Linked DNA regions of Homo sapiens: region 1 is linked to region 2. Evidence: fine-mapped expression QTL. A gene starts in region 2. The other region holds a variant in brackets. All regions are shown on one strand. Distances are from middle to middle.

The links. PIP is the estimated chance that this variant, and not a neighbour inherited with it, causes the effect. A credible set is the group of variants that fine-mapping cannot tell apart.
Region 1: its variant is the best candidate, but not a certain one, in a credible set for the expression of FRRS1 in whole blood (TOPMed, PIP 0.57).

The regions. Positions count from the first base shown.
Region 1 is chr1:99,837,290-99,842,679 of GRCh38, forward strand. It overlaps the pseudogene RPL39P9. Among named protein-coding and RNA genes, the nearest start is that of AGL, 10 kb to the right of the region's middle. The variant T/A (reference allele first, on the strand shown) is at 2,825.
Region 2 is chr1:99,763,785-99,769,174 of GRCh38, forward strand. FRRS1 (ferric chelate reductase 1) reads right to left here and starts at 2,851. Exons shown (of 17, transcript NM_001361041.2): 1 at 2,823-2,851.

The DNA.
Region 1 (5,390 bases), 74 kb after region 2:
CACTCTGGGAGGCCGAGGCGGGCGGATCACCTGAGGTCAGGAGTTCGAGACCAGCCTCAACATGGAGAAACCCCGTCTCTACTAAAAATACAAAATTAGCCGGGCATGGTGGTGCATGCCTGTAATCCCAGCTACTCGGGAGGCTGAGGCAGGAGAATTGCTTGAACCTGGGAGGCGGAAGTTGCGGTGAGCCAAGATCGCGCCATTGCACTCCAGCCTGGGCAACAAGAGCGAAACTCCGTCTCAAAAAAAAAAAAAAGAAGAAGAAGTGGATAATACATGAGTCTATATAGCTTTGGAAAAAGAAAGCAATCAATTATGACATGGAGTACATGAGAGAGTACAGTCCTTTCTTAATACCAAACTCTAAACCTTTCAATTCAACAATAGTTTGTCAAATGTCATAACTGCTCACTTTTGCACTATTTGTAGAACTTGAATGTTTTCATATTTATACTTCACAGTAAATTAACTATATGGAAGTTACTGATTTTGATGTATTCTCTCTTGGGGAAAGGACAGGGAAGAAAGGGCAAGAGACACACTGTTCTTGGATTCCTTCTCAAGATGTTATTGAGTGTTTTCTATACAACAGGCAATGTTTTAGGTGCTGGGGATTCCGGAGAAAAGATATTTTCTCCTCTCAATAAGCTCACCCTCTAGTAGGACAGACATTTAATTGTTAGGTCAGGATACCTGATGCATTCTTAGGAATTTTGCCACTCTGAGAGCTTTGTTTTGACAGGTTTGTTTTCCACCCTTCTGAGCTGGGCAAAGGACACACAAAATCAGCTGTCAAATCAATTCCTATTCAAAACTGAGGAAAAAAAAAAAACTAACCAAAGTTAAAGCTTTTGAAAAGACAGTAAATGCATCATGGTTAGCACTATGCTAACCATAAATTTACCATGCTGCTATAAGATATAGCAAAATCAAGCCCTTTCCTGTGATACTTCAAAAAGGAAAAGAAAATATGTATTCTTTAAAAAATAAAGAGGCCAGGCACTGTAGCTCACACCTGTATTCCCAGCACTTTGGGAGGCCGAGGCAGGCGGATCATTTGAGGTCAGGAGTTCAAGACCAACCTGGCCAACATGGTGAAACCCTGTCTCTACTAAAAATACAAAAATTAGCCAGGTGTGGTGGCACACACCTGTAGTCCCAGCTACTTAGGAGGCTGAGGCAGGAGAATCACTTGAACCCGGGAGGCAGAGGTCGCAGTGAGCCAAGATCACGCCACTGCACTCCAGCCTGGGCAACAGAGTGAGAACTCTGTCTCAAAAAAAAAAAAAAAAAATTAAACATAAAAAATAAAGAATCATCTCAATTGATGCAGAAAAAGCTTTTGACAAAATTCAACATCATTTCATGATACAAACACTCAGCAAACTAGAAGAAAACTACCTCAACCTAATAAAAGCCATATGTAAAAAAATCTACAGCAAACATCATACTCAACAGTGAAAGACTGAAAACTTTTCTTCTAAGGTCAGGAACAAAGCAAGGATAACCACTTCCACCACTTCTATTCAACATATTGAAAGTCCTAGACAGAACAATTGATCAAGACAAATAAATGAAAGCTTCATCCAAATTGAAAAGGAACAAGTAAAATTATCTCTGTTCACAGATGTGATATGTAGGAAACTAAGATACCACACACACACACACACACACACACACACACACACACAGTTAGAATAAATGAATTCAGCAAAGCAGCAGGATACAAAGTCAATGCACAGAAATCAATTGCATTTTGATACACTAACAATGAGTAATCTGAAAGGAAATTAAGAAAACAATTCTATTTAAAATAGCATTTAAAAACTTAGGAATTCACAAACCAAAAGGAGACCTGTACACTGAAAACTATAAAACATTGCTAAAAGAAATTAAGAAAGACATAAATAAATGGAAAACCATCCCATGGTTCATGGATTAGAAGATTAATATTGTCAAAATGTCAGTACTACCCAAAGTGATCTACAGATTGACTTTTTTTTTACAGAAATAGAAAAATTAGTTTTAATATTCATGTGGAATCTTAAGGGACCCTGAACAGCTAAAACAATCTTGAAAAAGAAGAACAACATTGGAGGACTCACATTTCCTGATTTTAAAACTTACTACAAAACTTTGGTAATTGAAACAGTGTGGTACTGGCATAAAGACAGATATATAGATAGACAAATGAAATAGAATAGAGAGCCCAGAAATAAACCCCAGTATATATAGTCAAATGTTTTCCAACAACAGTACTAAGACCATTCAGTGGGGAAAGGACAGTCTTTTCAACAAATAGTGCTGGGAAAACTGAATAGCCACATGCAAAATAATGAAAATGGACTGTTAACCTAACCCCATATACAAAAATTAATTCAAAATGAATCATAGACCTAACAAAAGAGCTAAAACTATATAATTCTTAGAAGAAAATATAGGGCAAAACTTCATGATATTGAATTTGGCAATGAATATGACACCAAAGACACAGGCAAAAAGCAAATAGATTAATTGGATTTCATTAAAATGTAAAACTTTTGTGCTTCAAAGGACACTATCAATAGCATGAAAAGACAGCCTACAGAATGGGGGAAAATATTTTAAAATCATACATCTGATAAGGGATTAATATCTAGAATATGTAATGAACTAATCTAAAACTCAACAACAACAACAAAAATTCAAAAGTAGGCAGAGGACTTAAATAGACATGTCTCCAAAAGATTTACAAATGGCCAGTAAGCACATAAAAAAATGTTCAACATCACTACCCATTAGGGAAATGAAAATCAAAAACACATTGAGATACCATCTCACA[T/A]CTACCAGGATGGCTACTATAAAAAAAACAAAAAATAGAAAATAAGTGTTGGTAAGGATGTGGAGAAACTGAAATCTTTGTGCACTGTTGATGGGAAGATAAAATGTTACAGCCACTGTTGAACACATTATGGTGGTTACTCAAAAAGTTAAAAATAGAATTACTATATGATCCAGCAATTCTACTACTGGGCATGTACTCAAAAGAATTGAAAGTATGATCTCAAAGAGATCATTGTATACCCACTGATATGGTTTGGCTGTGTCCCCACCCAAATCTCATCCTGAATTTCCACATGTTGTGAGAGAGACCCGGTGGGAGGTAATTGAATCATGGGGGGCAGGTCTTTCCCTGCTGTTCACGTGTTGGTAAATAAGTTTCATGAGATCTGATGGTTCTATAAGGGGAAGTTTCCCTGCACAAGCTCTTTCTTTGCCTACTGCCATCCATGTAAGATGTGACTTGCTCCTCCTTGCCTTCCACCATGATTGTGAGGCCTCCCCAGCCACATGGAACTGTAAGTCCATTAAACCTCTTTCCTGTATAAATTACCCAGTCACGGGTATGTCTTTGTCAGCAGTGTGAAAACAAACTAATACACTCATGTTCCTAATAGCATTATTCATAAGAGCCAAGAGCAAACCACATGTCCATTAACAGATGACTAAATGTGTGTGTACACAAAATGGAATACTAGACAGCCTTAAAAAAGTAATCCTAGGCCAGGCATGGTGGCTCATGCCTGTAATCCCAGCACTTTGAGAGGCCCAGGTAGGTGGGAGGATTGCTGGAGTCCAGGAGTTCGAGACAGGCCTGGGCAACATTATGAGAACTCGTCTCAACAAGATAAATAGATAAAAATAAACAAAATTAGCTAGGCATGGTGGCATGAGCCTATAGTCCCAGCTATTCGGGAGGCTGAGATGGGAGGATCACTTGAGCCTGGAAGGATGAGGCTTCAGTGAGTCAAAATCATGCCACTGCACTCCACCGTAGGCAACAAAGTGAGATCCTGTCAAAAAAAAAAAAGAAAGAAAGAGAAAAGAAATACTATCACATGCTACAACATGGATGAACCTCAATATTTTGCTAAGTGAAATAAATCAGTAACAAAAACTACTGTATGGTTTTATTATATGAGGTACCTAGAGTCATCAACATCATAGAGACAGAAAGGAGTAGCTGCCAGGAATTTGGAAGGGGGGAATGGTGCATTATTGTTTCTGATATAATGAAGTTAGTATTTCTAAAGATATTAATGTACTTTCTTATTTGCCTTTGCAATATGCAAGACTTTCTCCATTCAGCCTAAGACACCCATCTGCCTCTGTAGGAGATTTGGATTGTAATAGAATAAATGCATAGAGGAAGGAGAGGTGATGTTTAACACCTGACATTCAAAATAGGATTTTGCAGCAAGACTATGGGCAGTTTGAGAAACAAAAAAATTTCTAAGGGAAACCCATTCTCTTAAGAAAGGGTTTGAAAGATTGTAAAGATGAGAAAACCTAAAGAAAAGAGGAGGCGAAGGAAACGGTCTGATGTATCATGATAGAAGCAAGTCCAATAGGTTGAGGGGATTACTAGATTATAAATTCCATGCAGGCAAGGATTTTTGTGTGTTTTGTTCATTACTGTATCCCCAGTGCATAGAACAGTGCTTAGTACACAGCAAACACAGTGTTTACTGAATGCACACAGGGCTTTTTGTTCTGCTCCCTGTTCTGAACTCTGGTTGTAGAATGCTATACTAGGCAAAAAGGGTGCGGGGGTTGGGGGGGGTCCAAAAAGAGGGATCCTAGAATGATTAAGAGGGTAAAGCAAGATCACTTACATATAGGACCTGGGTTTCAGCTCCAGTACACATTTTATAGATCCACCATGACAGAGTTGAGGTGATTCCAGCAAAGCCTTATCAAATGGATGTCTTGGGCCTTGGACCAGGCAGAGAACATTTTAGGTACTCAGAGAGGGGTCTGTAGTGAAAGTAGGATCAAGAAAGGCTGAGACAGTAGGGGAGGAGGATGCCTTTAGACTCTGGCCAAGCCAAGAAAGAATAGACAGGAAGTTATCAGCTACAGACATCAATAGTTTGTGCCAACAGGATTACCAGGAACAGGACTAGACAGATACACATTAGGTGATGCCAGCCCCTGCACAAGAACCAGTTCAAGGTCACAGAGTTCAACTCCCCCAGTGCAACCAGTTCATGTGAGATCCTGCTCCTTATACTAGACATCTCTTAGAACAAAGTAGAGAGAGAAAGGGGCGTCGAAACAATAGAACAATGATTTCAAAGAGACTGGGTTAAAGAGATTATTTAAATAATTGGCTCAGAATTAGTTTCCAACCAGATTAGACTAAAATTATTTTTGTTTTCCCACACCTGCCTAGCAGTTAGGAAACGGTAAAGGAAATTGGAGAAGCTTTTAAGAATAAAATATACTCTCTTCCTTTCTCTGCCATCGAGGTGTGTGCTTGACTCTGCTTCTTGCCATGTCTTCTCACAAGACTTTCAGGATTAAGCATTTCGTGGTCAAGAAACAAAAGCAAAATCATCCCATCC
Region 2 (5,390 bases):
TTGAACCCTGGAGGCAGAGGTTGAGGTGAGCCGAGATGGCACCATTGCACTCCAGCCTGGGCAACAAGAGTGAAACTCTGTCTCAAAAAAAAAAAAAAAAGAATGAAAAGAAAAGAAATATATCTTACAGAAAAACCCATACAGTTAAGCAAGGATTATTTCCAGTAGCAAAAATGTTGGATAATTTAAGTGGTTACAAAAATAAACTACGCTATACCCAAACTATATAATACTTGCTAAACGTTAACAAAATGAAATAGAGTAAACAGATAACAAATACATCAGCTAATAATTATTGAGTGCATTCTAGGAGGTAGGCATTGTTTTAAGTACTTTGCAAGTATGAACTCATTTCACAAAAATCCCAAGACATGAATCTGCATGTTAAGAAGATACATGCTCATGCTCCACTGAGGAATCAAAACAAGAAAACTGCAAAATGATATGGAATGTACCAAAATATACATAACTTAAAAGGAAAAGAAAAAAACCTTTATACATGCTTCCAATTGTTCTCAACAGTGTTTACCCCTTAGGAAGGTATGTGTTTTCAGGATGGGAAGAGTGGGCTTCCTTTCTTTAATGCCCTTTATAATGTGCATTTTTTTTAAAGCATGTAGTGTTTTATAATTTCAAAAAACACTACAAAGTATGTACATGTAAGACTGTACAGAAACTGATTTGAAGGTGGTTAGATATTTTCTTTTTTCTATTTTCAAACATTCTATGTTACTTTTACTATTTTTGTTTGTTTTGATAAAGAAGACCTTCACCCCTCTTTCAAGATCCATTTAAAACGCCGTCAACTACTGTCCTATGATACAATGAAGTGTATGGACTTTGAAATATCACAGACCTAGGTTTGAATCTGTCCATTAATGTAATCCAGCAGGCACCACCATAGTGACCCTGGACAAATTATTTAACCTTACTGAGTCTTAGTTTTCTCACTTGTTAGAGACAATGCCACCAATATCAATGGCTTGCATGAGGATTAAATAAAATACTATCTCCAAAATATCTAGCACAATGACCACCATTAACAAAGTCTCCCATATAAAACTGTCTTCCTTTCTTGGATTCTTGCCTAATTCCACCAACCTGAAATAACTGTTCACTCCATAAGCTTTAGTTTTTCCTAATAAATTTTATCATGTTTTTCTGCCACATTTGGTGACTTGTCTTTTGGTAAACCTCTGGATATCAGTAAAGGTGTCCTACACATTGATCTCCATTCATTCTGACTAGCAGACAACCTTCAAAACAGTACTCATACAGTGTGATTGTTATGTGAATTTTGAGAAAATCCAATATTAAAAAAGCTGACAGGTGTGAAACAGAGAGTACACTTCACCAAAAAAATCAACATACTGGCTAACTAAATGACGAACTAAAACTCACTTCTCCAACCTAACAAAACCATCTCTTAAAAGGTCTTTGTTTTCAATAAGCTGATAGATCAAATTAAGCCCCCAACTTCAGTTCTATCCCAGTATAATACTCAAATCTTACCACTTTTTTAAAAATACAGAAGTGGCTGGGCGCGGTGGCTCACGCCTGTAATCCCAGCACTTTGGGAGGCCGAGGCAGGCAGATGACCTGACGCTGGGAGTTCGAAACCAGACTGACCAACATGGAGAAACCCCGTTTCTACTAAAAATACAAAATTAGCCGGGTGTGGTGGTGCCTGCCTGTAATCCCAGCTACTCAGGAGGCTGAGGCAGGAGAATTGCTTGAACCCGGGAGGCAGAGGTTGCAGTGAGCCGAAATCCCGCCGTTGCACTCCAGCCTGGGCCACAAGAGCAACACTCCGTCTCGAAAATAATAAATAAATAGGCCAGACGCGGTGGCTCAAGCCTGTAATCCCAGCACTTTGGGAGGCGGAGGCGGGCATATCACGAGGTCAGGAGATAGAGACCATCCTTGCCAACACAGTGAAACCCCGTCTCTACTAAAAATACAAAAAATTAGCCGGGCGTGGTGGCGGGCGCCTGTAATCCCAGCAGTATACTCAGGAGGCTGAAGCAGAAGAATCGCTTGAACCCGGGAGGCGGAGCTTGCAGTGAGCCGAGATCGCGCCACTGCACTCCAGCCTGGCGGACAGAGCGAGACTCCGTCTCAAAAATAAATGAATAAATAAATAAATAAAAATAAAAAATAAAAATACAGAAGCAAATGAAAATATCTGAACTGAAAAGTTTAGCTATGTTAAGAAATATTCCTAATAACACATTTACAATTTGAAAAATCCCCTTTACCCTTTAGGGCAGTATGACAAGCACACACAAAAATAAGTGCAGTGATAACACCTTGCCACCCTGGAGTCTTTCTGAAATTTTAACGACACACCAGGGCTAGGGAGTGGGAGGGTAAGGGGACTAAAAGTTCTAGATAAAAAGCCACTTTAAAAACCAAATAAGGTTCTAAGTGACCCTGATATAGGTAACCATGCCACTAGCTTTAAATATAAAAAAAGAGTTCCTACAGTTTTAAATTTAAAATTAAAAACAAAAAAAAAACTCCTGCAAGAATAAAGTCAATGATTTTCAGGATCCCAAACACGTCTCTACTTATAACCACCCATATCTTGGAATTAAAGCTTGTTAGTCAAAGTCACAGGACATATTAACCTAACTCGTTAGTGAACACTCATTAGCTCAATTCAAGCTCCAGAACATAGTTTCGGAATACAGCACCCGTTCTGCCTGGCCGACTGCCCTGGTCAGCACAGGCACTCGCTCTCCAGTCTGTCGCTAAGCTGGATTTGATTTTTAACGCTTTACAAAGAGCTTTGACATTAAGGAAAAAGACGTGACACTTACCTTGAGAAGCGAAGGCAGCCTAACCAACTTCCGGTTTTGTTACAACTTGTATCACATTTCAGCAGCTGGGTGGAGCCAGTTAAGCCTTGAGCCAAAAGGGAACCTTTCCCAAACTAAGCTGCAGAACTTGATTTGCAAGACCAGTGCTAGTTTTAGGACTCCATTTCTGAAAACTTAGAATTCTGTTTTACACTAAGGAACAGTGTTTGCCAACTAGTACCTACTTCGCCACAAAAATTATAGTTTTTGTGTTTAATTGCAAAACTATTTGAAAATACCTGTTCTATAATAGTGCTAAGTAAAAGCAAATTAACTTTTAAAAAGTGGAAAAAGATCAGATTGCATAGAACCGAAACCTTTCTGCAGTGTGAATGATATAATGCAAAAGAAATCTTTTATTTTGCAAATTACCCCTGAAATTTAGGAGTTTTGTTTCTTTTTAAGCCTTTAATCTGTTTCACAAGACTCTTTTGCAAAAGAAAAATTTTAGGGCTAGGAAAAGACAATGTAATTGAATTTTTAACAATCTTTGTTTTTATTTTGTTTTTTGTTTTCCTGTTTTTTACTTTTTTTCTTCTCTTTAATGTAATTGAAAATATTAAACATTCCATTTCAGACCTTGAGTGACATTGTAATTGCCCAGTGGGTTCACCTTGCCCGCTGTCTAGACAGAGCCGATTTATCAAGACAGGGGAATCGCAATGGAGAAAGAGTAATTCACGCAGAGCTGGCTGTGCAGGAGACCGGAGTTTTTTGTTTTGTTTGTTTGTTTGTTTTGTTTTGTTTTGTTTTGAGACGGAGTCTCTGTCTGTGGCCCAGGCTGGAGTGCGGTGGCATGATCTCGGCTCACTGCAGCCTCCCCGTCCTAGGTTCAAGCGATTCTCCTGCCTCAGCCTCCCCAGTAGCTGGGACTACAGGCGCCCGCCACCACGCCCGGCTAATTTTTGTATTTTAGCAGAGACAGGGTTTCACCATGTTGGCCAGGCTAGTTTGGAACTCCTGACCTCAAGTGATTCCACCTGCCTCAGCCTCCCAAAGTGCTGAGATTACAGGCATAAGCCACCGCGCCCAGCCCGGAGTTCTATTATTACTCAACACAGTCTCCCCAGGATTCGGAGATCAGAATTTTTAAAGATAATTTGGCGGGTAGGGGCTTGGGAAGTGGGAGTGCTAATTGGTCAGATTGGAGATGGAATCATGGGGGGTCGACGTGAGGTTTTCTTGCTGTCTTCTGTTCCTGGGTGGGATGGCAGAACTGGGTGAGCCCAATTACCGGTCTGTGTGGCATCAGCTGATCCACCGAGTCCAGGCTCTGCAAAATATCTCAAGCACTGATCTTAGGTTTTACAATAGTGATGTTATCCCCAGGAGCAATTTGGGGAGGTTCAGACTCTTGGAGCCAGAGGCTGCATGACCCCTAAACCATAATTTCTAATCTTGTAGCTAATTTGTTGGTCCTGCAAAGGCAGACTGGTCCCCAGGCAAGAAGGGGGTCTATTCAGGAAAGGGCTACTACCAATTTTGTTTCAGAGTCAAAACATGAACTGGATTCCTTCCCAAAGTTAGTTTGGCATATGCCCAGGAATGAACAAGGACAGCTTAAAGATTAGAAGCAAGACAGAGCCAGTTAGGTCTGTTCTCATTCACTGCCATAATTTCCTCAGTTATAAAAGGCTTTGCAAAAAGCCTTTTTGCAAAGGCGCTTTCAACATATGCAGACTGGAAAATAGATTATGACCCATGCCTTGACCTGTGAATGCTGGTTATCAATCAACCCCAGTAAATTCTTTAAACCATTTTTAAAGAGAGAACAGAGAAAGGAACACCATCACGTTACGCTTTCTCTTAAAGAACTAGTCACAATTAACAAAAGCCCCTCTCTACAGGTTATTAAAGAGAGGCTTTAAATAAAGATGACCCAGAGTTGGTTTGCTATCCTAAAGCTGCTGGGAACATGAATAGTTTTAAACTAAGTCAGCTGATCTTCAGTTCTTCAAAGCCTCAAGTGGTGAAATAGCCTTCTGCAGATAACAGACCCTTTCCAGGAACTGTCCCCATTGCATGCCAAAAGTATGATATGTCTATAAAACAAAAACTCTTCGACTATATTATCAGAACCCTACATTCTAAAGCACTCTTAGGAAGTGGTACGACACAGTGGGAAGAACTGAATGGAGAGAGAGGCTAGCTTTGTCTAAAACAACCCTTTCACTAGGCTCAGTGGCTCACATCTGTAATCCCAACACTTTGGGAGGCCGAGGGGGGTGGATCACGATATCAGGAGTTCAAGACCAGCCTGGCCAAGATGATGAAACCCTGTCTCTACTAAAAACACAAAAATTCGCCAGATGTGGTGGCACACGCCTGTAATCCCAGCTACTCAGGAGGCTGAGGCAGGAGAATGCTTGAACCTGGGTGGCAGAGGTTGCAGTGAGCAGAGATCACACCACTGCACTCCAACCTGGCCAATAGAGCAAGACTCCATCTCAATAAATAATAAATAAATAAAACACCACCCCTTCTGAGACTATCATTTCTCTCCATGTCCCCAGCTATAATTCCACCTTA